Linked DNA regions of Homo sapiens. The protein of the gene in region 4 purifies or fractionates together with the protein of the main gene of each other region. This does not show direct contact. Each region holds a gene or a part of one and is shown on either strand. Other genes may lie near its edges. The genes, in order: KIF11, AKAP8L, CEP97, KATNAL2, ASPM and WDR62.

What was found.
Region 1: the proteins of KATNAL2 (region 4) and KIF11 purify together in Homo sapiens (tandem affinity purification; one large-scale study listed by IntAct). This does not show direct contact.
Region 2: the proteins of KATNAL2 (region 4) and AKAP8L fractionate together in Homo sapiens (co-fractionation; one large-scale study listed by BioGRID). This does not show direct contact.
Region 3: the proteins of KATNAL2 (region 4) and CEP97 purify together in Homo sapiens (tandem affinity purification; one large-scale study listed by IntAct). This does not show direct contact.
Region 5: the proteins of KATNAL2 (region 4) and ASPM purify together in Homo sapiens (tandem affinity purification; one large-scale study listed by IntAct). This does not show direct contact.
Region 6: the proteins of KATNAL2 (region 4) and WDR62 purify together in Homo sapiens (tandem affinity purification; one large-scale study listed by IntAct). This does not show direct contact.

What each region holds. Positions count from the first base shown.
Region 1 is NC_000010.11:92,633,793-92,638,637, reverse strand, and holds part of KIF11 (kinesin-like protein KIF11), read right to left. Parts: coding exon 4,843-4,845; intron 1,455-4,842; coding exon 1,329-1,454; intron 1,252-1,328; coding exon 1,093-1,251; intron 1-1,092. UniProt on the Homo sapiens protein: Motor protein required for establishing a bipolar spindle and thus contributing to chromosome congression during mitosis. Required in non-mitotic cells for transport of secretory proteins from the Golgi complex to the cell surface.
Region 2 is NC_000019.10:15,401,131-15,405,975, forward strand, and holds part of AKAP8L (A-kinase anchor protein 8-like), read right to left. Parts: intron 2,913-4,845; coding exon 2,880-2,912; intron 2,586-2,879; coding exon 2,345-2,585; intron 474-2,344; coding exon 20-473; intron 1-19. UniProt on the Homo sapiens protein: Could play a role in constitutive transport element (CTE)-mediated gene expression by association with DHX9. Increases CTE-dependent nuclear unspliced mRNA export.
Region 3 is NC_000003.12:101,754,729-101,759,573, reverse strand, and holds part of CEP97 (centrosomal protein of 97 kDa), read right to left. Parts: intron 4,145-4,845; coding exon 3,980-4,144; intron 2,512-3,979; coding exon 2,378-2,511; intron 1,941-2,377; coding exon 1,151-1,940; intron 1-1,150. UniProt on the Homo sapiens protein: Acts as a key negative regulator of ciliogenesis in collaboration with CCP110 by capping the mother centriole thereby preventing cilia formation. Required for recruitment of CCP110 to the centrosome.
Region 4 is NC_000018.10:46,919,680-46,924,524, reverse strand, and holds part of KATNAL2 (katanin p60 ATPase-containing subunit A-like 2), read right to left. Parts: intron 4,467-4,845; coding exon of another isoform or gene 4,431-4,466; exon of another isoform or gene 4,380-4,430; intron 1-4,379.
Region 5 is NC_000001.11:197,082,982-197,088,369, forward strand, and holds the end of ASPM (abnormal spindle-like microcephaly-associated protein), read right to left. Parts: coding exon 5,275-5,388; intron 3,992-5,274; coding exon 3,822-3,991; intron 1,446-3,821; coding exon 1,343-1,445; 3' UTR 1,146-1,342; downstream 1-1,145. UniProt on the Homo sapiens protein: Involved in mitotic spindle regulation and coordination of mitotic processes.
Region 6 is NC_000019.10:36,085,137-36,089,396, reverse strand, and holds part of WDR62 (WD repeat-containing protein 62), read right to left. Parts: intron 2,711-4,260; coding exon 2,585-2,710; intron 360-2,584; coding exon 292-359; intron 213-291; coding exon 91-212; intron 1-90. UniProt on the Homo sapiens protein: Required for cerebral cortical development. Plays a role in neuronal proliferation and migration.

The DNA.
Region 1 (4,845 bases), on a different chromosome or scaffold from region 4:
GCTTCCTTAAAGCCAGGAAAGCCAAACCATTCATGCTAAGATACTTTTCAGATCAGATTTTTTTGTATTGTTTTTTTAAAGAGCTGTCTAACAATTTTAAGCATTTCAAAACAGCAAATTTATAAAAAGGGGATCAGCCTTAGAATATACACCTAAAAAGTTCTCAACGGGTTTAAGGGAAATACCCTATGTAGATGTATGAGAAAATGCTGCAGTTTTAAGTTGCCAAAAAACACACAAAAGAGCCACTCAAACATGGATGCTTTTCAGGTAGTATGATCACTACCACCTTCTGCAAGATGATCTACATACTATTAGATGCTCACAGGGTCTCAGTTTCCTCATTAAAAATCTGACTAGTAATAGAATTTATATCTATATTGATGGGAGGAATAAACACAGTGAATTGCTCAATAAATGTTAACTATTATAAGAGTTCTGTCATATTATAATAAGCTCATTTAATAAAACTTTAGACAGTCATTATTAAAGTCTTAAGAATACCAGAAGCTGTTTTTCAGATATCTGATATTTACAGATTATGGTTTGAAGGCTTGGTTTTGGTTTAAAGCCTCATATAATGAGGAACAGTTTACAGGGAAGATAAATCATGAATTACATTTATAATCAATAAGAATTAAAAGTTGTATCGATTTACTATGTTTTAAATGTCTATCAGTGAGACAGAAATAAGAGAAAGTAGGACTTGGTTTATGAAAGACAACTATCCATGCCATCCTAGAAACAACTTAGCAGGTTTTAATGTAGATACATTTTCACTTTAAATGTTATAACCATTCTTCTCTAAAGGTATGTTTTTCCAGATTCATCTTTCATCTTGATGTGAGAAAAGGACTGTTTTGTCATATTGTGGTTCTGCATGGGGTTCTAGATGTAGCAAAACTTCAAATATTAAGAGAAGTATTCTCAATTGTTCTACAATAATTACTGTTATAAGCAACAGTGGCTATGGTATTTTCAGGTTTCAGCTTTTACAGTATTCAGATTGTGTAACATAGATTAATTATCAAGTCATATCAAATCATCCTAAAACTCTCTTTCTGTACTCCCCAAGTCCGCTAAACAACATACCTGGGAATGGGTCTGCTTTATTGTCTTCAGGTCTTCAGTTAGGTTTCCACATTGCTTTTGTGACTCAACCAAGGAACAAATGGTATTTTCTTGTAGTTCATGTAGATTGTTACACAGTATACTGAGAAAGCCATCTAGTTCCTTTTTTTGATCTTCTATCTTTGAAGAAACAAAAATGAGTTTCCTTCTTAAACAACACATCAATTTTGAGATATTAAGAACATAGCATTTGTTACCTTATCGGCCACTGTCAATGAAGTCTTGAAAATATGCTTTAGTTGACTATTGATTTTCAGTATAGACACCACAGTTGGGGATAAAATCATTTCCAGTGAACTTAGAAGATCAGTCTTGAGTACATTCTGGTTTCAGAAATAAACAAATAGGTCTTTAAAAAGAATATTTCCACTTCTGTAAACCTTTCTAAATGATATCTTAAATACTTTGGTAGCTAAACATTCACATTAAAATTTACATTTCCATTCTCCATTCTTTTTTTTTTTTTTTTTTTTTGAGACGGAGTCTCATTCTGTCACCCAGGTTGGAGTACAGTGGCAACATCTTGGCTCACTGCAACCTCTGCCTCCTGGGTTCAAGTGATTCTCCTGCCTCAGCCTCCGGAGTAGCTGGGATTATAGGTGTGAGCCACCACACCCAGCTAATTTTTGTATTTTTAGTAGAGATGGGGTTTCGCCATGTTGGCCAGGCTGGTCTGGAACTCCTGACCTCAGGTGATCCGCCCCCCGTGGCCTCCCAAAGTGCTGAGATTACAGGCGTGAGCCACCGCGCCCGGCCCCATTCTCCATTTTTTATACTCTACATAGATAAATCAATACAATAATACAATAATTTATTATATTACAATAAATATAATAATTTCTCTTTTTTCAAGCCCAGTGAAAACACAGAATTTCTTTTTTTCTTTTTTTGAGATATAGTTTCACTCTCGTGGCCCAGGCTGGAGTGCAATGGCGTGATCTTGGCTCACTGCAACCTCCGCCTCCTGGGTTCAAGCGATTCACCTGCCTCAGCCTCCCAAGTAGCTGGGATTACAGGCACCTGCTACCACGCCTAGCTAATGTTTGTATTTCAGTAAAGACAGGGTTTCACCATGTTGGCCAGGCTGGTCTCGAACTCCTGACCTCAAGTGATCCACCCACCTTGGCCTCCCAAAGTGCTGAGATGAGCCACCGCACCCAGCCAGAACTATTTAATAGTTTAATGAAATAGAAGTCAGAAGAATTCAAAAGAGGAAAATGACAGTTAATAAGATTTCAGCACTCCAAACAAAATAAATTTTTAAAAACCTACAGGTATATTTTAAGAAAATAAATTTCAAACAAGTTTAGGTTACCAGTCAAAAAGGCTGAGACCAAGTAGTCATCAAGATTAGCCCTTGGGCTGGAAGTACTTAACTTTGAAGATCTGAGATGACTTACATCCTATTGTATCAGAAGAACTTGTGAAAGATGTTGTTCTTGTCAAGAAATAGGGAAATTAAGAATGTAGTATAGATTGGAAATATTTATAAAAAGAAAAAAAATCCTGATCTAATCTCCTTTTGGTAGGATAGGGCTGAGGAAGTATAACAGAAATACATTAGTAAATACTTATAGGTCTACTGACATTCTTTTGGAAAGAAGAGCTAGCATACCAATTTCAACTAATTTTGTGAGAGCAACATGCCTCTTTTCTTTTAATTCAAGCAAAAATTGTAACTTGGTAAGTAGAAATGTATCAATTCAGGCATAGCTTATTTTATTGTGCTTCACCTTACTATGTGTCACAGATACCAAATTTTTACAAATTGAAGGTTTGTGGCAACCCTACCTTGAGCACGTCTATCAGTGACTTTTTTCAAATATCATGTGCTCACTTTCTGTCTCTGCATCACATGTTGGTAACTACTACAGTATTTCTAACTTTTTCATTATACACTGTGATCAATGATCTTTGATGTTACTATTGTAATTGTCTTGGGGTACCATAAACTGTACCCCTATAAGACAGCAAATGTAACTGATAAACGTTGTGTTCTGATTGTCCCACCAGGCGTGTGCTGGAATTACAGGTGTGAGCCACTGCGCCTGGTCAACATAACCTTTATATGCACCGGGAAAGCAAAAAATTCATGACTTGCTTTATTGTAATATTCACTTTATTGCAGTGGTCTGGAAGCAAACCTGCAATATCTCTGAAGTATGCCTATATATATACAGACCACCATTTAATGAATGAATCAATATTTGAAAAGTTAGTACTGACAGGATATCTTTTAATTTTGTCAAATTTGGGTGATTGAGAAAACCTATCAAATAATGTCATCTAAGCACTGAATTGAGGCAGAGGGTCAGCTAACATTTGTAGTATTTACTTGGAAAATGTTTAATAAATATTGTTAAGCTGAAAAAGGGAGGCAAAGACTCTGCACAAAGAAAACAAATAAATTATATGGCTAAGAACTTCCTAGACCAACCATACAATTATAAAATAAAGACTATATATAAATCAAGTATGAAGGAGGTAATATTAAGTGCAATTAGATGAGTGACTTCCATAGAACTCTGGAGAAAAGATTTATAGTTATGGCCCAGAAGGGGCCACACAGATCTAACCCTAAGAAGTGATATGTGTCCCCAGAATTCTAAGATATTTTTCTTGCACCATTATTACTATCATATATTACTGTAGTTTTAAAATCAGCTACCCAATATCCCCTTCTGGTTGGGTCCAGGACCCCTGGGGAAAGAGTGACTTGCCAATTTCTGGGCCAACTAACAAGTCCCTTGATATCATGTGGTGCTAAACTTGCCCTTTAGTCATTAGAAGCCTCACTAATAACTGCTACTCCTAATGTTACAAGACATGAGTGAAAAAGGTTTCAAAAGTTAGTTCCATACATTTGAAAATAATCTTTCTGGGAGAGAATAAACAGTGGAGAGATCTGTCTTTAAAAATATAAACGTACTCTCGGCCGGGCACGGTGGCTCACGCCTGTAATCCCAGCGCTTTGGGAGGCCGAGGTGGGTGGATTGCTTGAGGTTAGGAGCTTGAGACCAGCCTGACCAACATGGTAAAACACCATCTCTACTAAAAAAAAATACGAAAATTAGCCAGGCGTGGTGGCACATGCCTATAATTCCATCTACCCGGGAGGCTGAGGCAAGAGAACTGCTTGAACCCAGGAGGCAGAGGTTGCAGTGAGCCGAGAAAAGGAGAGGCTGAAAAAAATAAATAAATACAAATAAAGAAAAGGAGAGGCTGGCTGGGCACGGTGGCTCATGCCTGTAATCCCAGCACTTTGGGAGGCCGAGGCGGGTGGATCACAAGGTCAGGAGATCAAGACCATCCTGGCTAACACGGTGAAACCCCATCTCTACTAAAAATACAAAAAATTAGCCGGGTGTGGTGGTGGGCGCCTGTAGTCCCAGCTACTCGGGAGGCTAAGGCAGGAGAATGGCATGAACCCGGGAGGTAGAGCTTGCAGTGAGCCGAGATCACGCCACTGCACTCCTGGACGACAGAGCGAGACTCCATCTCAAAACAAACAAACAAAACAAAACAAAACAAAATATATATATATGTAGTCTCTCACAGTGACGTGTCTATGACTGTGTCTAGTAAAGCTCAGGAAGAAAGAATAGCAGTTAACATTGTTTATAAAGACTTATCAAATGTAACCCTTCAAAATATTTTATCAAATACTTATCAAATGCAACCCTTCAAAAATATTTTAAAGGATGTACTAACAAT
Region 2 (4,845 bases), on a different chromosome or scaffold from region 4:
GAAGGCTGCCTCCACTCACTCGGAAGTCGGCTGTGGTCCAGGTCTTCCAGGTCCGCCTCATCTGCTTCATGCCATTGCCAAACCCGAAACCAAAGCGGGAGCCGCCCGGGAAGGCGCCCCCACCTCGCATGCCCTGGAACATGCCGTACTCGGGGATGATGTTCTGGGAGAAGAGGGAGGGCAGCCGAGAGGCACCAGACATGCACTGGCCCCGGGCCCCCATGGGGTCTTCCCACATGCGCCCATAGCCTGAGGCCATTGGCCGGCCGCTCCGGGCATCCCGGGCCCAGCCCTGTGCCCTGGGACCGAAGGTGTCGTTGCCACGCATGCGGAACTGGTCGCGGTAGGCATCGTATTGGCCCTCATAGGCCATTTCCATCTCAGGGTCAAGCTCGCTGTAGTCATAGCCTGACCGGTACAGGTCGCGCTCACTCAGGACGGCCCTCGAGTCGCAGGACTCATAAGAGTCATACCTGCAGAGGCATGGGGTGAGCATCAGGTGGAGCCCCTCAGGATCCCTCACCTCCAGGCAACTGCTCCTGCCCTCCCCAATCTCCCAGTCCAGCACCCACCCTGCCCTGGTTGGGAGGCTCAATGTTCAGAAATGCCGATTAAAGAGTTCCAGCCTCTCAGCTGATATAGGGGCACCACTGCCCCAAACTTGAATGTAGCCACACACTGGCTTGGGGACCCTAAGAAGGACTGAAGGACTGATAACTGGGGTGGAGGCTCTAGTCCAGTGAGTCTCAACAAGGGGCAGAGCTGCTCCACAGCCCTTTGGGAACATGTACACCATCTGTGGGAGCTGCAACGCCCAAGGCTGCTCCTCACAGGGCAAGGCTGAGCACCCCAGCACCCTGCAGGATGCAGGCAGGTCCAGCACAATGAATGCGCAGCCAGTGAGGCTGATGATACCCATGGGAAACACTGTTCTTGTCCCTCATGGCTGGGGAACCTTCAAACTCTGCAAAGTCCCTCATTACCAAAACAACTGAGACAAAAGGGGGAGTATTTCCCAGGGAAGACACTGAGAGCTTGCCCAGGGACAAGAAAAAGAGCTGTATTACATCAACCCTGGAGCCCAGAGCCAGACACCAAACTCTATATACCCTGTATTGCAACTGGGAAGGCAGGCCAGACCTCCTCCCAGGACACAGAGGGCACCGCAGAGAGCTCTTTTAACCGTGACTGCAGCCCGCAGCCCACACCCCTACAGGCCTGGACCCCACACACCTCACAGGCACAGGGGCTCCCCTTGCACACTCTTCCCTAAACCTGGGCCACCAAGAGGCACCGGCAGCTCTAAGAGCAGCAGTTGGTGCTGCCGCTGCTCTGCTTACCCCGATCCCAGGCTCCAGGCTGTGGTAAGAAGGTGCATAGCAGCAACGCAAGGCCAAGCCTCACATGCCAAGCCCTCAGCTCTGAGTGCTGCAGCTGTTGGGCCAGGAGTTACAGAGCCCATGGCATCAAATCCCCTTGTGCCTGTTCCACACCCTGCCACCACAGCCCTGGGGCCTCCCTTGGCCCTATCAGTGCTCAGCCAGGCAACTCCTTACTCTTGGCTCTCACTCATCTGTTAGCTGGTGCTCCACTCTATCCCATGTTAGAGATACACCCACGCTCCTCACCAAAGCCTCGCACTGGGCATAAGCACTCCTGGGCCAAGTCCAGTTCAGTTAATAACAAATGCCCACAGCATGATGCTTTGGAGTAGGGCAGATCTGGTAGGCGAGGCCCAGCCCCACCAAGTACTTGCTGCGTGCCTTCAGGGTATGACCTGCCTGCACTTCTGTATCCCCACCTGCAAAATGAGGACAGCAGCAGTTCCTCACAGGAGTGCTTCCATCAGGTACATGTTTGTAAGGCACAGGAGAGTAACCAGGAAATGCCCACACCTGCCCCGACCCTTACGTGGGGGTGGCCCAGCTCGCAGTGATCAGCCCCAAACGCTCGTCCCACCCTTCACACCAAACTCCATCTGTCCTGCCCTGACACCACGCAGGAGGCAAAGTCTCGAGAGAATTCCAAATGGCTGTCCTTGGAGGGAGGGGTGGCTGAACACTCTGTTTTTGAGGGCACAGTGAAGTCTGCCCAGTCTGGGCTTGTTCCTCTCACCGCAAGCTGGGAAAGGCTGACCACCAGGCAGTGCGGCAGGGGTTGAGGGTGGGTGAGAGGAGACACAAGTCAGAGACGGGAAGTGCAACGGACCCTGCTGGGAGCCACAGCAGCACCAAGCAGCGGGGAGGAAGCAGACACAGAGGGGCACTCAGAGAGGAAAACGCAGTGGGCAGCAGGCAGGAGCCGCCCCTGCAGAGTCTCAACCCCTAGGCAGGTGTCCACTCACCTTTCTCCACCTGAGCCGTACACGCCTCCTTGCATCATGTCTGTCTCCAAATGCGGCACCATATCTAAGCGCTGGTTAATTCTGGATAAAACGGAATCGGCACTGGCGCTACCCGAGGCACTAGTGTTTGCATTTGTGTCAGAGCTAGGCATTTCCCAAGAGTGTGAAGTGGCCATACCATACCCATAGTTGGTGGTGTTATCCTGGCCATAGCCATAGCCATAGCCATAGCCCTCGTAGCCTGCAGTGAGGGAGACAGAGACAGACAGATGGTGGGGGCAGGCAGAGGGGAGGCAGACAGAGACAGAGACAAACACAGATACAAGGGTATCTTCTGTCACAGAGAGAGAAGACCCTAGCCACTGAAGCTAGATGGGCCCTGGTCATTCTGATGAGGGCCTCCTGTTAAGGAGTAGGTAACCCCAGAAACATGCCCCCTCCCCACTCCCAACCTTGGCCAAGCAGGGCAGTGGCAGAGAAACACAGCCAGGACAACCCCAAGGGACAGGACAGCAATCACAGGAATGACACTTGCCTCTATTTGTCCCAGAGTTCCAAGTTCCATATCCTACAAAAAGTAAAAGGGCAGTTACATCTATACTTGCTTACAATACAAGGCCATAATTCAGGCGCAGACAATTATTCCCAGGACCTGACTGGTCAGAGCAGGCTGCACCTCCCCTAACCGAGAAGCCTTGAGCTCGCGAGCACTGCGCAAATGACCCAGGCCACTTGCTGCCCTGGTGCCTGGCTGCCTGTGGCTCTGAGCATCTGTTATTTAAGGATCCTTCTGTTCCCAACACTCTCAACTAAGGAACTTGGCTCCTATACTCCTCCCTTTAAGAGCCAGAATTAGAAGGTGACCTCCACACCCCAAGCTAAGTGCTAATCAGTTTATAGCAGAAAACCCAACCCCAGTCTCCCAAGAGTCTGCCTTAAAAGGGAGGGCCAACAAGCCCTTGAATTGTTGACTGTGCTGTGCTGGAACACATCAGTGAGAGAAGCCCAAGAAGCAACCCCTCGCTTGAGAAAAGCTGTGGAGAGAACAATCTGGATTATCAACTTAATATGCTCTGGATTCAATCACAACACATGATAAAACCTCATTCCTTCAGTAACATAAAGCCACTGAGAAGTGACAAAGTGTAAAGTCCCCTGGGAACTCTGAGTCAAACACACAGTTCCTCCCCAAAGGAGGGCACAGAGCAGGTGACCCCTTTCCCTGGGTCTCTGGTGAGACCCAACAGTTGTTTCCCATTCCATGTCATCTCTGCCCCGCAGAGGACATGCTCATCCCAGGGCAGGGGACCGAAGCTCAGTGAGACAGACAGCAGGGCAATAAGTGGCAGAAGCCAGACCACAGCAGGAAGAGTGTAAGTCAACTGAAAAGATGAGCCAGAGAGAACAGGCAGGCTGTCGTCCTGCACTTGGGTTCCTCCACGACCCAGTGCACAAAAAGAATGGGAAGAAATCAGAGAGAAGCTGAGGAACTGCTGATGACCACTATGTTTAACAAGAGAGCTCACAAAACAAAAACTCTTGGGCTGGAGAAACCAAAACAGGCTTCTCATCCATTTGTTTATGTATCCCCTGAGCACAGGGAACAGAGGCTTGCAGTCCCAGGCACTGCTCAGGCATGGAGATCTGCCTGTTGGTAAGAGAGATGCTAACAGCCAGAGAGCAGCATGGGTAAGTCAGGAGTGGTAGCTGAGGAAAGAATGGAGCCATTCTAAGAGGCAAGAGAGGCTGGCAGAGCCACATAAAGAAAAACACACAAGGCTGGGTGCAGTGGCTCACGCCTGTAATCCCAGCACTTCGGGAGGTCGAGGCGGGCGGATCACCTGAGGTCAGGAGTTTGAAACCAGCCTGGCCAACATGGTGAAACCCCTTCTCTACCAAAAATACAAAATTAGCCAGGCGTGGTGGTGCACACCTGTAGTCCCAGCTACTCAGGAGGCTGAGGCACAGTTGCTTGAACCCAGGCGGCAGAGTTTGCAGTGAGGTGAGATCGCGCCACTGCACTCCAGCCTGGGCGACACGGTGAAACTCCATTTCAAAAAAAAAAAAATAGAACAACACACAGGTAGCCCAGGCAGCTACTGTACACCTGGCCAAGTGACTGTTTGTACCAGGGACAGTGGGCACTAGCTATTCTAAAGAAAATAGGAGTTGGGCGTGGTGGCTCATGCCTGTAATCCCAGAACTTTGGGAGGCCAAGGTGGGTGGATTACGAGGTCAGGAGTTCGAGACCAGCCTGGCCAATATGGTGAAACCTCATCTCTACTAAAAATACAAAAATTAGCCAGGTGTGGTGGTGCGCGTCTATGGTCTCAGATGCTTGGGAGGCTGAGGCAGGAGAATCACTTGAACCTGGGAGGTGGAGGTTGCAGCGAGCCAAGATTGCACCACTGCACTACAGGCTAGGCGACCGAGCGAGACTCTGTCTCAAAAAAAAAAAGAAAGAAAAGAAAAAGAAAATAGGATATGGAGGCAAAAGCAGA
Region 3 (4,845 bases), on a different chromosome or scaffold from region 4:
ATCAATGATTTCTAGTCAACATCTGTTTTGTTCGCCTGGGGTCCTGGGTCCTGGGCCATGGAGTATCAGTGTGACCTCTATGTGGTCTGAGGTGTAAATAGTTAAGATCAGTTACATGGGTACTCAATACCTATGTGACTGGCCCACAATAAAAACCCTGGACACCAAAGATGAGGTAACTTTCGTCAGTTGGCAATACTTCATATGTGTTATCATACATCATTGCTGAGAAAATTAAGCCCTGTCTGTACAACTCCACTGAAAGAGAACAACTGGAAGCTTGCACCTCATGTCTCCTAGACTCTGCCCTAGGCACCTTTTTTCTTTACTGATTCTAATCTGTATCCTTTTGCTGTAATGAACCATAATGACGAACAGAATAGTATTTTCCCAAGTTCTGTGAGTCCTTTTAGCAAATCATCCAACCTGAGGATAGTCTGGAGAATCACCAACACAGTCACCAATAGCCTCCAACTGCCAAGTTTAATGCCTGTGTCCTCTCTGTGGCACCTCTCATCTCTCCTGAAACACTTGCTCCTGTTGAAGGTGGAACTCTCCTAGTTTTCCTACCACTCTGGCTGTCCCTTCTCAGTATCCTTTGCTGCCTCTTTCTCTTCTACCTGATAATACCAGTAAATATTACTAGTTGCAATATTAATGAAATCCTAACTTTCCTGGGCTAGCAGTCAGTAAAACATACGAGCCATGGGATTAAGGAATAATTCCTATTGTAGTCATATAGAATTTTAGCCCCTTCTGAATCCCTGCTATTTTCTTTATTTCTTATGTCATGTACTGAATTCCATGTAGACTTCATCATCTTCTCATTTTTATACTTGGTTTTTCAATGTTTTCTGTACCTTTCTATGTTTAGAATTATAGATCCCTATAAAGCTCACGTTCATTGAACATTTATTACTACACTGCATCTATGTATCAAGTGCTTTGCTGGGGATGGAGATGAGGAGATAGAGCAGATAGTGTCTGCTCTCCAGATGCTTTCGGTACACTGTAGGAGACAACCAAAGCAACAGTGGCTACATTGTGTGAAAAGTGTTATAATCACAGAAGCACAGTGTTCTGAATCAACTATAAGAATCTAACACCCTCAAACCAACAAAACAGTGCATCAAAAGGACTTCTGACCCACCTCCTTATTTCATCAGTTAAGCAGACAATGTGCTCTTGCATTCTGCGTAGCCGGATTTCGTAACGCACATCTTTGGCTTGAGGGTTGTAGTTCCTGGCATAAAATCCCCGCCAACAGGCCTGAAGCTTGGTGGCTGCATCATTTAATTTCTGAAGGGCAACTTTGTCTTGTCCCAAAGCAACAGATCTCTGGGTTAAAATCATGGGAAGTTTCTCTGAAGTTGCTTGAGATATGGTTTCTTTATTTTCTGGTTGTGTATTTTCTGGTTTCTTTATGTCTGATTGTTTCTGCTCAGTTGACTCAGGAAAAAATGTAAGACTGTGGTTATCATCCTTCAAGATAGCACTGATTATTGTTGGCTCAGGACAAGGTAATAGTCCAGCTTTCTCATTTACCTCTGTATTGATTTCACTTCTCATCATTTGAACAGAATTCTCATTTGCAGCCCATAAAGGCTGTTCCTCTTCCTTATCCAACACCTGGCTTTCCAGCCCTTTCACAGATTCATCTGCAACACCATCATCTTCTAGGCCCAAGTTAATGCCCTGCAGCCTCAGCTCAACTGTAGGTGATAGTGGAGACAGTCCTGATGCAACTGGCATAAAAGTAGACTCTGAAGAGAGAAGACTACAGTTTAACTTGTCCTCATCCGTCTGTATGTCTTCCAGGTGCAGATCATTTCGAGAATATCTCGTAGTGTGTACAGAGGCTGGAAAATTATTCTTAACCGCAAATAACTGATCATCATTACTGTTTATCCCAACCCAAGAATTCACTTGAATGACGGGTTCTAGAAGAATCAACAGAGTATCATTTAAACCACTAAATGTTTACATTTTAGTTATGTCCCTTTAATGAAATCTATTCCTTGAAATAGAGTAAAATGCAAAAAAATCCCCTCAGTGACTTCTTCCAATATGCCGAAAACATCAAACCAAACATTTTTAAGAAAATGAATTCTTGTGATAATCATAAGAATAATCAAAGCATCAGGTCTATATAAAAGGTAGTAGTCCTTGAAATGTTTCTTAAAATTAGAAATATAGCAGTTATAATATACATACATATATAGGTGTGTTTATACATAGATATGTATAAGATCTAAATGATTACTGAAGTTAGTAAACTAACAAAAAATTATGAAAATATGCACCTTTTTCTGCTTTATGATACCCGACAAATTAAACAACTTGGAGAAAAGGGATCAGAGATAAATTCATTTCTTACCACTTTCCTGGGATATCTGGCAATCTTGAACAGGGCTTGAATGCTCAGGAATAAGGGATGCCCTTGTTTCAACAGGAACAAGAGGAGACAACTCTTCATTTTGGCTTTGGTTCATCAACTGCCTCTGGTGAAACCTAAAAATCAATAATACCTGGTCTAATTTAACACAAACCAAAAAAAGAAAGATTTTCTGCTTCCTAGGTAACAATGTCAAAAAGGCAGAAGTTTACAAGTTCTCAAAGTAGGTACTTTTAATTAATGCCAAATTATAAATCCTCATTTGAAAGCACTGGATAAAGAAAGTTAAGAAGCTTATTTTGTAATTGCAAAGACAGACCCTACTATGCACACATACACACATACAAAAACATTTAAAGGCAGGATCTCTGATAAAGAAAGTAAATATTAAATGCTTCTGGCAATACTTTTTCTCTTTTTTTTCACTGTACCCTTTGAAGGCAGATATACCTCTTAAGTATTCAAAAACCCACAAGAAACACCTACATTAAAGAACAAATAGGTCGGGCACGGTGTCGCGCACCTGTAATCCCAGCACTTTGGGAGGCCAAGGCAGGTGGATCGCTGGAGCTCAGGAGTTCAAGATCAGCCTGAGCAACATGATGAAACCCCATCTCTACAAAAAATATAAAAAATTAGCCGAGGCTTGGTGGTGCGTGCCTGTAGTCCCAGCTACAGGCACGGACTGAAGGGGGTCTGAAGAGGGAGGATCATTTGAGCCCAGGAGACTGAAGATGCAAGGAGCTGAGATCACACCACTGCACTCCAACCTGGGTGACAAAGTGAGCTCCTGCCTCAAAAAAGAAAAAAGGGGGAGGGGTGGCAGACGCAGTAGCTCATGACTGTAATCCCAGCACTTTGGGAGGCCAAGGCGGGCAGATCACCTGAGGTTAGGAGTTCAAGACCAGCCTGGCTAACATGGCAAAAACCCATCTCTACTAAAAATAAAATATTAGCTAGGTGTGGTGGCGCATGCCTGTAATCCCAGCTACTCAGGAGGCTTAGACCCGAGAATCATTTGAACTGGGAGATGGAGGTTGCAATGAGCTGAGATCACACCACAGCACTCCAGCCTGGGCAACAGAGTGATATTATGTCTTAAAAAAAAAAAAAGAACAAATATATTTTTTAAAAATCCTATCCCGTTTCCTGGTGTAGTAGCTCATACCTATTATCCTAGCACTTTAGGAGGCCGAAGCAGGAGAACTGCTTGAAGCCAAGAGTTTAAAATCAGACTGAGGAACAAAGTGAGACCTCATCTCTACAAAAAATTAGCCAACCATGGTGGCATGCACCTGTAGTTGCAACTGCAGTGACCTATGACTGCACTGCTGTACTCACAGACCAAGAGACCAAGACCCTGTCTTTAAAACAAAAAAACCCCTCTATTCCTCCATACCATATTGTTTGGCTGTTTGCAGTGCACGATTCAGCTTCCCTGCAGGAACTGTTGCAGTGACAAGGGGACTGAGTGTCCAGAAATGTGGGCCGCAGCACTTGCCTCAGGCTTACTATCACCATAGCAAAGACTCAGAGGTATTTTAACTTGTGAATTCATCAGTTGTTAGAAATAAATGGGCTTACCTCTGTTTGCTCAAAATCTTCTCTAGTTTGGCATCCTCTGCAGTTTGAAGACCTAGTGTAGAAGTGAGGGGGCAGACTGTAGCCAGATATTGGACAAGCTGGATGTGCTGGCCAGGCCGATATGCTCTCCCCTTGCCTTGACTATAGAGCCATTCAGCTTTCAAACTGGAATTGGGGAACATAAAAAAGAGGAGATGGCATGAGAATAGTCAACACACATTGTCAGGCAACAATGATCTTCCTTGTTAACTTACCTTTATAGCACCATTGTATGTTTTTCATAAATAAAATTCACTCAATTTTTTTAAAAAATCTATCATTCTGACTCATATTCACCATTCTAATAATGTTTCAAACCCTTTTTCTTGCTTAGGGGCACTTCCATTGAGCTTGGACTAATGGTGCCAAATATTTTTAAATCATTTTCAAGGAAGCAATGAGTATTCTCCCCATTCATTCTGTCACACTGAAATGCCTAAATAGATGAACTGCATTTGAATCCATTAGTTCATAATGACAGTTAAAAGAAAAAAAAAAACTAGCCGGGCATGGTGGCATGTGTAATCTCAGCTACTCAGGAGTTGGGGTGGGAGGATCACTTGAGGTCAGGTGTGTGAGGCTATAGTGCGCTATAATCATACCTGTCAACCTTATAGTCCACCAACCTTATAGTCCACCCCTCAAAAAAAAAAAAAAAATCAAACCTGAATCTGAACAAACATCCATATCCAATTTACAGAAAATACAAAAGGGAGAGGAATATGTCAAAGGACACAGGGATGTAGTTGGTAAAATGAGCAGATAATGGGAAACTCTATAGGACAAATACTCTGACTTCTTCAACTACAACCAAAAGAAAGAAAGAA
Region 4 (4,845 bases):
AAAGCTGGAGTCATCACATTACCTGACTTCAAACTATACTACAAGGCCACAGTAACTAAAACAGTGTGGTACTGGTACCAAAACAGAGATATAGACCAATGTAACAGAACAGAGCCCTCAGAAATAATGCTGCATATCTACAACTATCTGATCTTTGACAAACCTGACAAAAACAAGCAATGGGGAAAGGATTCCCTATTTAATAAATGGTGCTGGGAAAACTGGCTAGCCATATGCAGAAAGCTGAAACTGGATCCCTCCCTTACACCTTATACAAAAATAAATTCAAGATGGATTAAAGACTTAAATGTTAGACCTAAAACCATAAAAACCCTAGAAGAAAACCTAGGCAATACCATTCAGGACATAGGCATGGGCAAGGACTTCATGTCTAAAACACCAAAAGCAATGGCAACAAAAGCCAAAATTGACAAATGGAATCTAATTAAACTAAAGAGCTTCTGCACAGTGAAAGAAACTAGCATCAGAGTGAACAGGCAACCTACAGAATGGGAGAAAATTTTTGCAACCTACTCATCCAACAAAGGGCTAATATCCAGAATCTACAATGAACTCAAACAAATTTACAAGAAAAAAACAAACAACCCTATCAAAAAGTGGGCAAAGGATATGAACAGACACGTCTCAAAAGAAGACATTTATGCAGCCAAAAGACACATGAAAAAATGCTCATCATCACTGGCCATCAGAGAAATACAAATCAAAACCACAATGAGATACCATCTCCCACCAGTTAGAATGTCGATCATTAAAAAGTCAGGAGACAATAGGTGCTGGAGAGGATGTGGAGCAGCTGGAACACTTTGACAATGTTGGTGGGACTGTAAACTAGTTCAACCATTGTGGAAGTCAGTGTGGCGATTCCTCAGGGATCTAGAACTAGAAATACCATTTGACCCAGCCGTCCCATTACTGGGTATATACCCAAAGGATTATAAATCATGCTGCTATAAAGACACATGCACATGTATGTATGTTTACAGAGGCACTATTCACAATAGCAAAGACTTGGAACCAACCTAAATGTCCAACAATGACAGACTGGATTAAGAAAATGTGGCACATATACACCATGGAATACTATGCAGCCATAAAAAATGATGAGTTCATGTCCTTTGTAGGGACATGGATGAAACTGGAAACCATCATTCTCAGCAAACTATCGCAAGGACAAAAAACCAAACACCACATGTTCTCACTCACAGGTGGGAATTGAACAATGAGAACACATGGACACAGGAAGGGGAACATCACACACCGGGGACGGGGACTGTTGTGGGGTGGGGGGAGGGGGGAGGGATAGCATTAGGAGATATACCTAATGCTAAATGACGAGTTAATGGGTGCAGCACACCAACATGGCACATGTATACATATGTAACAAACCTGCACGTTGTGCACATGTACCCTAAAACTTAAAGTATAATAATAATAAAATTAAAAAAAAAATAAGTTGAGATCTTACTAAAGGTCTAAAAAAAAAAAGTTCTGTATGTTGATAAGAATTTTTCTATATGGACTGAAGTGTTTACTTCAGATCTAAGGATTTAACTATATTATATATACAATATCATATATAATATTATATATTAAATATATATTATATTAATATGATATTATATATTAAATTATAAATCTTATACAGATAACCATACTGCTATGCTTTCGAAGTTTATGTTTCAACTTTTTATTATTTATTTATTTTTGAGATGGAGTTTCACTTTTGTTGCCCAGGTTGGAATGCAATGGCATGATCTCCACTCACTGCAACCTCTGCCTCCTGGGTTCAAGCGATTCTCCTGCTTCAGCCTCCCAAGTTGCTAGGATTACAGGCATGCACCACCACACTTGGCTCATTTTATTTCTTTAGCGGATAGACATGAGGTTTCACCACGTTGGTCAGGCTAGTCTCGAACTCCCGACCTCAGGCGATCCACCCACCTCAGCCTCCCGAAGTGCTGGGAATATAGGTGTGAGCCACCGCGCCCAGCCTCAACTTTTTATTTTTTAATTATTTGGTTTTTTTTTTTAAAAGGCTAGTCAAGTGATGCAGTGAAAGTGGAGAAGAAACAAATTTGTGATTAAGGTTTTCAGAATAAAAAGTTGAGGCCGGGAGCAGCGGCTCACATCAGTAATCCTAGCACTTTGGGAGGCCAAGGTGGGAGGATCATTTAAATCCAGGAGTTTGAAACAGCCTGGGCAACATGGTGAAACCCTGTCTCTACAAAAGATACAAAAATTAGCTGAGAGTGGTGGTGTGCCCGTGGTCCCAGCTACTTGGGAGGCTGAGGTACGAAGACTGCTTGAGCTGGGAGGTGAAGGTTGCAGTGAGCTGTGATCATGCCACTGCACTCTAGCCTGGGCGACAGAGTGAGACCCTGTCTCAAAAAAAAAAAAAAAAAGTGAGGAAAAATTTTTTTTTAATTCCTTGTTCAGTTTCCTTGATACTAGTTTTGGTAAAGTCTAAGACTAAGACAGTATTGGCAAAGTGTGTAGGAGTTAGGAAATGTGATATAAATAGATATATGCTTAGCAAAAGAAGTAAAGTGGCTTGGAAAACATCTGGGAGGCCTGAGCACTGTTATAGGGAGAGAGGAAGTAATCAGTGGGAAGGAAAAGAGAGATATTAAAATCAGTAAAGTCTAATGGGTTCAGAGACAGATGTGAAAGGATTAAGAAGACAGGTGCTTGGAACTAAACTCAAGGTTACATGGTTGGTCCAACCAGGTTGGAATGCTCTTTGCTAAAATTACTAGGATATATCATATGGTTCTTAATTATGTTTCTTAATGAAGTGCTTTTTTTTTTTTGTTATGTGTTTATCAGCTGTTTAGATTCAAAATCAGCTTAGCTGTTTAGATACAAAAAATTTACCATCTTTCACTTTATAAATTTACAGAGTACACTCATACACCTGATCTATCAGATCAGGTATCTCATCCTGAGATAGGTGTAGTCATTTTTCTTTTCCAGATTAGAAAAATTAAGTTGAGACTTTGCTAAAGTTACACAGCTAGTAAATGGAAAAGCTACTCCTGAGATTTTTGACTTCGTGTATTAAAATCTTATGACACTTTATGCCAGGCGCAGTAGCTCATGCCTGTAATCCCAGCACTTTGGGAGGCCAAGGCAGGTGGATCACGAGGTCAGGAGTTCAAGACTAGCCTGACCAAGACGGTGAAACCCCATCTCTACTAAAAGTACAAAAATTAGCTGGGCATGGTGGCGGGTGCCTGTAATCCCAGCTACTTGGGAGGCTGAGGCAGAGAATTGCTTAAATTCGGGGGGGCAGAGGTTGCAGTGAGCCGAGATCGTGCCACTGCACTCCAGACTGGGCAACAGAGCGAGACTCCGTCCCAAAAAGCAAAAACAGAAACAAAAAACAAACAAACAAAAAAACTTAGGACACTTTAATCACAGTACTTATAATGAATCTTCTAATTTGGAGCCATTTTAAGACGGTAGCCTAGTCAGGTAATTGCCTGGAGATTCAATCCATAAAGAGCACTAAAACATTTTACCATTGGAAATGTAATAAAGAAAAAGGATATATTTAATAGAATTCCTCTGGTAGAAGAGTTCAGCATGTGGCTGGCACTGGTACTTTGATATGTGGCCTTTTGTGAGTGATAAGATTACTGCACCTCCCTCCTTCTCCACTCCCCTTTAAGGGTATACCACATTACTATGTTATAAGGAAGTTGGATTCAAGTAAGTGCAGGGATTTCTTTTTAATGAGGATATATAAATCTAGACCAGAGCAGAAATGATCACAACAGTGAAGAGAAACATGCCCTTTCTACCCTTTACCACTCAGCCATTCCTTTGAACATATATTGAATGATTATTGGGGAGTATAGATTAGAAAAAATGCCAAATTAATAATCTGGTCTGGTGAGACAAAGTAGCACCCTATTTCAGAATTCTTTCTATTGCAACTAATAGAAATCTCAACTCAAACAATCTAAAACCTTACAAGAAAGGCATTGGCTCAAGAAAACTGGCCAGTACAGAGGCAGAGTGAGTATCAAAGTCAATGCTGAGATTTTGTGTGTGTGTGATTTTTCTGCTCACAAGAAGGGTTGGTTCTCAGGTTGGCTCTTCACTGTAGCAAAATGGCGAGTGTTCCACATGCCAGAAAGTCTTATCTCTAATCACTGAATAAATGTCCTAGGCTTCCCTCTGATTAGCCTACCTTAGGGCACGGGTCCACACTTGATCTACTTGGCAAAGCCTATAAATGCTCAGTACTAATCAGATTTATATGCCCAGTTGTGATCTAATACTGTGGCCAGAATGACATAACAGTCCTTAATGACTCAGGCCAGTCTAGGGCAGCACCTAGAACTCTTTGCAGTCAAACCTACCCAACCCATCCAGGAGCTGCTACACATTGAGGAAGGGGCAGAATGAATGCTGGGAAGCAACTACAAAGAACACTGCACGTAAGTTTCAGTGGGGCTTTGCTTTTCTTTTCTTACTGTTTTGTGTTTATGTTGGTCCTCTTTATGGGTGTAAGCTCCTCTGTGGCAGGGCTGTATTGTACTCTATTCGTCTATTCCCCGAAAACTCCTCCCACAGTGGCATTCACTTAAAGCCTACTAAACAATGTTAAATTCTACTGAGGTGTAAATCAAGGTCTACGGAGAATAAATCAAGAGTAAGAATAAGCCAAGCGAAGATCACAAAGTTAATGGTGGAGAGACAGATTTAGAACCTGGACATTGTTCATTCATTCCTTTATTCATTAAACAAATACAAGGCCAACTATTTGTTAGGCATTTATCAGCCATTATAGTCTAGTGGGTTTACAATTTTTTAACA
Region 5 (5,388 bases), on a different chromosome or scaffold from region 4:
CAGTGGTTTGCTGGGGGCTCTCAGGCCTTTAGACACAGGCTCAAGGCTGAACTGCTGGCTTCCTTGCTTTTGAGACTGTTGGATTCAAATTGAGCCACTACTGGCTTCTTTCTTCTCCGGCTTGCAGACGGCTTATCCTAAGACTTCTCCATTTGATCACGTGAGCCAATTCTCCCTAATGAATTTCCTTTCATGTATACATATATACTATTAGTTCTTTCCCTCTGGAGAGCCCTGACTAATACAGATTTTGGTACCAGTAGTTGTTCTAGAGGAACAGAGTTTTAAGGATGGATTTCTTTAGCTGGTTTTGGGGTTTCTGGAGTTGGCTGTTTAATCTGATTAGATCCAAAAATGCTAAGGACTCTATTTCTAATAGTATGGAGAACACTGATAGTTTTTTATGTGAATTGTTTAGAGAGTTATGCAAAATAAATGCATTTGATACTCCTTATTAACTGCTCCTGAGAAGCAAGGAGTTTAGTGTCTCTATAAATAATACCTTTGACCATATGTGGAGAACCAAGGAATATAATGAAGTTAGTTGATACTCCTAAGTTCACTGAACAAAGTGATGAAAGAAAAGGATGAGCCCAGGGATTCTAACTCCCATGGGCAGACTTTGAGACTCTATTCAGATTTCAGCCATAAGAATTAGACATCTGTGGCCCTGAAACCACAGATACTAGTAATAGTGACTCAAAGAGTAGAAAAAAAATCACATTTCAATACTGAATCATTTTCAGGTCTGTGGTGTATAACTACACAACAAGATTCTATTATAAGCAATAGCATGTTCCTTCCACTTCAAATTATAACCCCCATCAGTTCAATGGTAAGAATTTTTAGTAAATACAGTGGTGGGTGTATTCTTTTTGTGAGCCTAGAAGGGCTCACTTGCTTATCTGGATGCTTTAGCCAGTCAAGGATATAGATAAGGATGCCATTGATATGAATTTGTGAGATTATTTTATCCTAGTCTCACTTCTTAGTGAGTAGACAGAACTTCAATTTCTAACATTTGTTTTATGAAAATTCCTCAACTTACCTATAAAAAAGGTGTAATCAGCTATTATTTCCTTTTAGTAATAAGATTACATTGAAACTACTATAATACTTTAAGATAATAGACAGGAATAATATAATCATCTTATGACATATTAGTTTATTACATGCATAAAACTATAAATGATAAAAATGAAGAATGTAATGAACAGTTTATGTTTTTTTAAAACAAAGTCAGATTTTAAAAGTTGTACACGGAGAGCAAAAATCACTTTACGTACTCATGATTGGCTTTAATATTTCTTTACACTATACATACTGAAAATGTTTACATTTACTAATAAGGAATGCCAAGCGTATCCATCACCATTTGAATAGCTTGCAGGGGATTTGTGATTTCTTCCATGTTATCTCTTCTCAAAACCCAATCTGGCTTAAGTCTGTTAAAAAAAAAAAAAAAGTCTGGCATTAATAAAGTTCTTCTCTTTAGAGTTACCTTCACCTTTTTTCTCTTAACTAAATTGTAGCTACTCCTGAACACATCATTTCCCTTACAAACTGCTCAAAGAGGTGGGAGAACTTCATATTATTGCCCATCACTAGTTCCAGACTATTTCTCTCCATCCTTTCTAAAAAATAATGCTGGCTTCTTTGAAGCTTATGCTATTTAGCTTGACCACTGCCTTTTGGTCATCAGCCAAACTCTCAGTGTCTTATTCCTTGTAAACCTGGTTCTTGTTCTCCTCTTACCTACTGTCACCGTTCTCAGCAACAGCAACATCTATGTGGCCAAAAAGCCAACAACCTAGTCCGTTTTTGCCCCACTTTCCTTCAATTCTACCTCAACCAATCCTTTTTAATATGATCACATACTAGACTTTGTCATCATCAGAAAGTGTGCGACCACTGAAATCTTGAGACTTCCATTCTCCATCCACCATTTCTGATTCATCCATGTCATATGCTCTAACACAGTCATTGAACCAGTTCTTCTACCCCACTGAGATCTCCACTTCATTTGGCCTCAACACATACCCAACATCCACCAGAATGCTGTCCTTACTTTCCTGTGTATCTAGCTCAGGTGCATCAGTATTATCAAAACCTTTGCAAATGCCATTAACTGTTGTCTCTCTCTCCTACCAAACTAGTCTGAAGAATTCTACTTGGATTTCAAATTGAGTCAAAATATCTGCCTTCTCCATTCCTATACAGCTGCATATTACTAAAAATGTTTACACAACCAAGCTGATTTTATTTTTTGCCAATAATTACAAATCTAAAATGAGCATTTGAAATTGCCAGCATGCTCCCTTTCTCTCCAAGATGACTATCTTGGTCCTTTCCTCTTTTCAAACTTCCCCTCCATACCCTCTGAGCTGCTTCTGAGTTGTTGAGTTTATAATCTCAAACTTATTGAGAAAATAGTATCAAACCGAGGGAGTTCATGCATCTTCTCACATAATTCCCTACTATATGCATTTCCATCATCTTATTTTGTCCTGCTAAAAATCCAAAGATATATCAATTGGTGAGTGAACAAAGTGTGGTACGACCATACAATGGAATAGTACTAAGTGATAGAAAGGAATGAAATTCAAATCCATGCATAAACATGAACGAATTTCAAAAGCATTATGCTAAGGAAAAGAATCCAGTCACAAAAAGCTATCTACTATATGATTCCATATATGTGACAGTATAGAAATGGCAAAACTAAAGGTACAAAAATCAGATCAGTAGTTCCCAAAATCCAGGGAATAAAGAAAGAGAACTGACAACAAAGGGGCATAAGGAAACTTTGTGTTACAGAAATATTTTGTATCTCAGTGGTGGTAGTTTCCTAACTGTATACATTTGTCAAAACGAATTGAATTGCATACATTTAAAGGATGCATTTATACTGTCAGTAAATTTTACCTCAAAAGCCTGACCTACATCAAAATTTTAAGAGAATCCATTCATATGTTAGTATGAGCTTTTAAAACATAATGAATATTAAATTCTACCAAGTCCTTAAAAAACATGTAGAAATGGTCCCATTAATATATTTCAAGCAAATGAACTTTACATTATGCTGTGAAATATGCATGCATAAAACCAATTTATAACTACATTATACAGTTTATAATTATGAGTATAATTATAAAGCTAATGGCTGTGTAACCACTCAGGTCAAGAAATAGTGTGTTGTCAATAATGTAGGATTTGTACCTAGTATAGAGAATTGCTAAGTCTCAAGAAGGAAAGAAGGAAGGAAGGGAGGGAGAGAGGGAGAAGGGGGAAGAAAAAAAGGAGGAGGGAGAAAGAAGGAAGGGAGTAAAAACACTAATTAAATGCCATGACGGTTCACCAAAATAAATTAAATCTTTTTGCCAATAAAATCAGAAAATGTCAATCTAAATTTCCAGAAGGAGAAATTTCAAGAATCAGGGTGATTATGGGAGGACTGGAGGTTGATATTTTGGCTAAGAAGGACTTTTGGCACTTCTTAAACAGTGTAGTTTGTCTTTCATGCAAAATAAAATAAATAAAATAAAATGACAAAACTTATAACAAGCTTCTTAGCCTTAGCTCTTAACTATTTAATATAAGAAGTTTGTTGAATAACTATTAAATGTCCAAAGCTACAGTATAATGTTATTTCTTTATTTACCAAGACTGCTTCTTTTAAATTTACCAAACATTCCATTCTTATTCATATGTTGTTTCTCCACTGAAAAGCACATCTTGTTTATGGTAAGTGCTCAATAAATATTTGTTAAATGAATGAATGAACAGTGACACAAATTTATGGACTATATTTAATTGCTTACCTTGAAACTATTCTGGTCCTTACAGGTGTTTCTGGGATAAAAGGAATGCTTATAGAAGAATTCTTCTTTTGCTTGTAAAGTATTCTTTCAGTATTCATTTTATGTTTATGAGCTGTAAGTTTGTAGAGACTGTAAATACGGTCAACAACTTTGGACCTACTTCGTACATCCTACAAAATAAAATGCACAGTTACTAAAAAGTAATAAGAATTAAAATTTTATCTCTTTTAGACTAGCAAAATCAAATATAATAAAAACTATGCAGTAAACCTTTTTTTTTTCTTTTTTGAGATGGTCTCTCTTGCTCTGTCGCCCAGGCTGAAGTGCAGTGGTGCGATCTTAGCTCAATGCAATCTCTGCCTCCCGGGTTCACGCCATTCTCCTGCCTCAGTCTCCCAAGTAGCTGGGATTACAGGCACCCGCCACCACACCCGGCTAATTTTTTTTGTATTTTTAGTAGAGATGGAGTTTCACCGTGTGAGCCAGGATGGTCTCAATCTCCTGACCTCGTGATCTGCCTACCTCAGCCTCCCAAAGTGCTGGGATTACAGGCGTGAGCCACCGTGCCCAGCCTGCAGTAAACTTTTAAGCTTTGAATAATCAAAGAAACCTCACCAAGTTTGGCAGGTAGATTGATTTAAATTACGAGCTAATTTGCAAGGCAATTATAAGGAAGATAAATATTCAAAAGTTGCATACTTAACTCCACACTGAATATAAGAAGGAATTATTATAGTCAACATAGCAATTATAGTCAACACACCTATCATATCCAGTTACCAAGTCTTGAAAAGTTTACCTCTGCAGTTTCCAAAGTCTTCTACTTACCTCTCAGCGACACAATCCTAAGACAAGCACAATCTCTTGCCTAGATCACTACATATCAACACTTGCCACCTTCTTTGATGGTCTCACTATATCCACACATGCTCTCCCAAATTCATTCTTCAATCAGAAGCCAGAGTGTTGTTAAAATTTAAATTGGAAAATATTATTCCCTTGCTTTACCCTGCAGCGGTTCCCACTTACCAGGATAAAGGCCACAGTCCAATTATGGCCTATGGTTTCCCCATGTTAATTATGACACTTAAAAAGAATGACTCAGAGGTCTCATCGTAGAAAAGCTTGAAATACAATTATGGTTACAACAGGAGGATAAGAAGTTATACCTATCTGGTTTTCTATCTTGCTAGGATACTTTTCTCTCTAGTAAATGGGAAATGGTTACTTATATGGCTGTAATAAATTTATTTTCAGAATTCAGTTTCTTTAATAGTCAGAAAGAAACAACTCATAGATACATCCTGAATTCATTTTATCCGTGCAAAAAGCAGGTTTGAACACACATAAAACCCTATTTTAGAGTGATAATTACTAAAGGAAAACTATAAAAGTCATAGACTTAAGACCACAGAAAAATAATCTTAAAGAAAGGCAACTGACTAATACTTACAGAGGCTCTATTTGTTGTCTTCAGTAAAATAGCCAACAAACAACAAGTTTTTGTAAAAATGCTTCCGCCTTTGTCTGCAACTTTATTACCAGGCTTTTCTCGGTATATCTGCAA
Region 6 (4,260 bases), on a different chromosome or scaffold from region 4:
TTCTTGGGGACCAGAGGAACAGAGGGAGGAAAGCAGACAGCCTAGGACAAGGCAGACCAGGCCAGCTAAGGGTCCAGGGCCACCCCTTACCTCACATTGCGGTCCTGGCAGGCCACGGCCACGTACTTCTGGGTGATGTCAATGTCCATGTCATACAAGGTGGTTTTCTCTGCTACGTGGTGGGTACGGACAAAGTGTAGTCCATCCGAACCCTGGCAGGGCCGGCAGGACCTTCAGAGAATGCCCCGACAACCCCCCACCCCAGCCCCCAAGGAGGCCATGCCACCCTACCTGCTGGGCACTGCGAAAGTAGATGCTCTTGTCAGCCCCACAGCTGATCATCTGGATGTCTCTGTTGCCTAGGGGAGGAGGACGCTGTGTGTTAGGCAGGGCTGGGCCACATGGGCAGGGGACCCTAGCTGGGGAACTCCACTGCAAGAGCCATCAATCAACTGTGCTGGGATCAAGGCTTCCTAAAGGTGGTGAGGTGGGTGCTGGGTCTGGGTGGGACTCTGTAAGGTATGAGCTGTACGTGTGAGGGGGCACAGGTGGAGCTGTGGCCAAGGCAGGCTCTGCAGAGCAAGGGCATATAGAGAAACAAAGGCTGGGGACAAAGAAGGGACACCCTCTCCAGTCTGGGATTGAGATAGGTGACTTGAGTAGCGGAGTAGAGGCAGGACTGCAGCAGCGACCAGTGGAGACAGGCTGGGAGGCTCGTGCCATCAGGATCAACTGCAAGATCCACATGAGCCTTGGGCCAGGCCCCATGCATGTAGCGGGTCTTCCTGAATGCTCACCACCCATCCCACTGGACAAGCATGAACACAGAGGTTCACAGAGTCCTTGTCCCAAGGCACACAGAGAGGACAGGGGCAGGACTGAACCCAGGCATTCTCTGGTGCCAAGGTCAAAGCTGTTAAACACTGCTCTGAACCTGGGCCTCCCCTTTGAGCCTCAACTTCCGGTCCGTACAATGGGCATGGTGACAGTTCCTTCTCTGGAGAGTGATGTGAAGCCCTTGGAACAGGGACTGCCACATGGTAAGCATTAGAAACATTCTTGCTTTTATTATTCTCATTTCTTTTTTTTTGAGACAGAGTTTCGCTCTTGTTGCCCAGGCTGGAGTGCAATGGCGTGAGATGCCCCCGGCCGTCTCATTTCTTTACAGAATAACAGTTTGGTGAGGATGAAATGACAGAACAAATATAAAACTCTGAGTCTGGGCACATCACACATGCTCCTTCATGACAGGACATTTGAGAGGGTCCAGGCCTGACATACAAGTATTAGATGTTGCTCAAGGAGGAGTCATTGGCTCACAGAAGGGAGTGAGCCCCATATAAGGGAGGAAGGGTAACCTGGGAGGGACCCAGAGAAGGCCTGCAAGCCTCTGGTAATGTTCTGCTTCTTAACCTGCACGTGGTGAATCCAAGTACCGTATTTAACAATATTACGACCATGAGCAATTAGAACAGTCTCTGCTATCAACAACGTCCTAGTTCAAACCTTGCTCCTAAGAACTGTGGATACTCACTTCGGCCACCACGCCCAGCTTATTTTTTATTTTTATTTTTTTTGAGATGGAGTTTTGCTCTTGTTACCCAGACTGGAGTGCAGTGAAACAATTTTGGCTCACTGCAACCTTGGCCTCCTGGATTCAAGCTATTCTCCTGCCTCAGCCTCCCAAGTAGCTGGGATTACAGGTGTGCACCACCATGCCCGGTTACTTTTTTTGAATTTTTAGTAGAGACGGGGTTTCACTATGTTGGCCAGGCTGGTCTTAAACTCCTAGCTTCAGGTGATCTGCCTGCCTCAGCCTCCCAAAGTGCTGGGATGACAAGCATGAGCCACCACGCCCGGCCTATATTCTTCTTTTTTTTTTTTTTGAGACAAAGTCTCGCATTGTCACCCAAGCTGGAGTGGAGTCACTGGCGCAATCTTGGCTCACTGCAACCTCCGCCTCCCGGGTTCACACAATTCTCCTGCCTCAGCCTCCCGAGTAGCTGGGATTACAGGTGCACACCACCATGCCTGGCTAATTTTTTTGTATTTTTAGTAGAGATGGGGTTTCACTATGTTGGCCAGACTGGTCTCGAACTCCTGACCTCATGATCTACCTGCCTTGGCCTCCCAAAGTGCTGAGATTACAGGTGTGAGCCATGGTACCTGGCCATTATTCTTTTTTTTTTGAGACAGGGTCTCACTCTGTTGCCTAGGCTGGAGTGCAGCCTCCACCTCCCAGGTTCAAGCAATTCTCCCACCTCGGCCTCCTGAGTAGCTGGGATTACAGAAACAACACCCCGCCCAGCAAATTTTTGTATTTTTAGTAGAGACGGGGTTTCACCATGTTGTCTAGGAAGGTCCCGAACTCCTGACCTCAGGTGATCCACCCTCCTTGGCCTCCCAAAGTGTTGGGATTACAGGTGTGAGCCATTACACCCGGCCCCAGTCATTATTCTGTATACTGTACACAGATACTGTATTCACTTGTTTGGATATATATTTTACAGGAGAGTTGAAAGAATGAATCCTTTTTTAGCAGGGTAGCTAGCAAGGCGCAGGGAGCGGGAAGAAAGGGGCTCACCAGCGAACTTGATGGCGGTGATGGAGGAGGAGTGGTCATCCAGCGTCTGCTCCAGGTTGTAGTTCTTCTCCACGTTCAGCACATGGATCAGCCGGTCCCGACTGGCTGAGGCCAGCAAGGTCAGCCCTGTGAGAGGAGAGAATGAGACTGGTTCCTGAAGGCTGCGTGGGTGCCCTGGCCTCCCAGAAGGGCAGTGTGACCAAGCTGCCCAGTCCTCGGAGAAGGGGTCTTTGGTTCTTCAACTGTAGCCAACTTGGCCCAAGCCTGGCAAGGGCCACTCCCTTAGCTCTGTGTGGTCTTTCCCAGAGCCCCCACACCCTGGCATTTCACCTCCTCACCACCAGCTCAGGGAGGATGAGTCTCGATGGGCGCATGGACGCTCCTCCAGGGACATCCACAGCAGACGCCCCAGCAGAGCCCAGCGCTCTTGCCTGCTGGGTCTGTGCTGGGTAAAGCCCTGGCAACCTCTCAGCCTCTTCCAAAACCAGTGTCCTCTCACCCTCTGAGGTCTGGCTACCTGGGCCTTGTTCAGGTCCTATTGACTGCCTGTGGCCAGACTCCCATCTGCCACCAGCCTTCCCTACTCTGGTCACTTGCTATGTCTGAGGCCTAATAACATGACCTGAGGCAGAGGGGAGATCAGGAGAGGCGAACCGAGTGAAGATATGTTTCAAGACAAGTTGGTGGGGCACACAGCATGGGGGATGAGAGAACGAAAGAAGAACATGGGGAAAATCACATCAGGATATAACTCCACCAACTCTGTAACTCCCAAAGTGCTGGGATTACAGGCATGAGCCACCGTGCCCAGCCTAGAAAACATCTTGAGGAGCCGGGCATGGTGGTTCACGCTTGTAATCCCAGCATTTTGGGAGGCCAAGGCGGGTGGATCACCTGACGTCAGGAGTTTGAGACCAGCATCGTGCAATACCTTCTATGCTAAAAATAAACAAGAAAAAGGACACAAAATGCTACCATATATCATCCATATATCATCTGGGTGACAGAGCAAGACTCTGTCTTGAAACAAACGAAATCTTCACTTGGAAATCTTCTCCTATCTCATGATCTCATCTGATGGCCCAGAAGGAATTTTCTGTTGTTTTAATGAAGAGGACCATGAGGTCTGGAGACCCTACTATGGTCCTAGCCTTCAGCCTAGGCTAACATGGTGAAACCCCGTCTGTACTAAAAATACAAAAATTAGCCGGGTGTGGTGGGGGCGTGCCTGTAATCCCAGCTACTCTCGAGAGGCTGAGGCAGGAGAATCGCTTGAACGCAGGGGAATCGCTTCAACCTGGGAGGCGGAAGTTGCAGTGAACTGAGATCGCGTCATTGCCCTCCGGCCAGGGCGACAGAGTGAGACTCTTGTCTCAAAAAAAAAAAAAAAAAAAAAAAGGTCAGGTGTGGTGGCTCATGCCCTAATCCCAGCGCTTTGGGAGGCCAAGGCGGGCGGATCACCTGAGGTCAGGAGTTTGAGACCAACCTGGCCAACATGGTGAAACCCCATCTCTACTAAAAATACAAAAATTGGCCAGGCATGGCAGCAGGCACCTGTAATCCCAGCTACATGGGAGACTGAGGCACGAGAATCACTTGAACCAGAGAGGTGGAGGCTGCAGTCAGCAGAGATGGTGCCACTCCCCTCTAGCCTGGGTGACAGCAAGACTCCATCT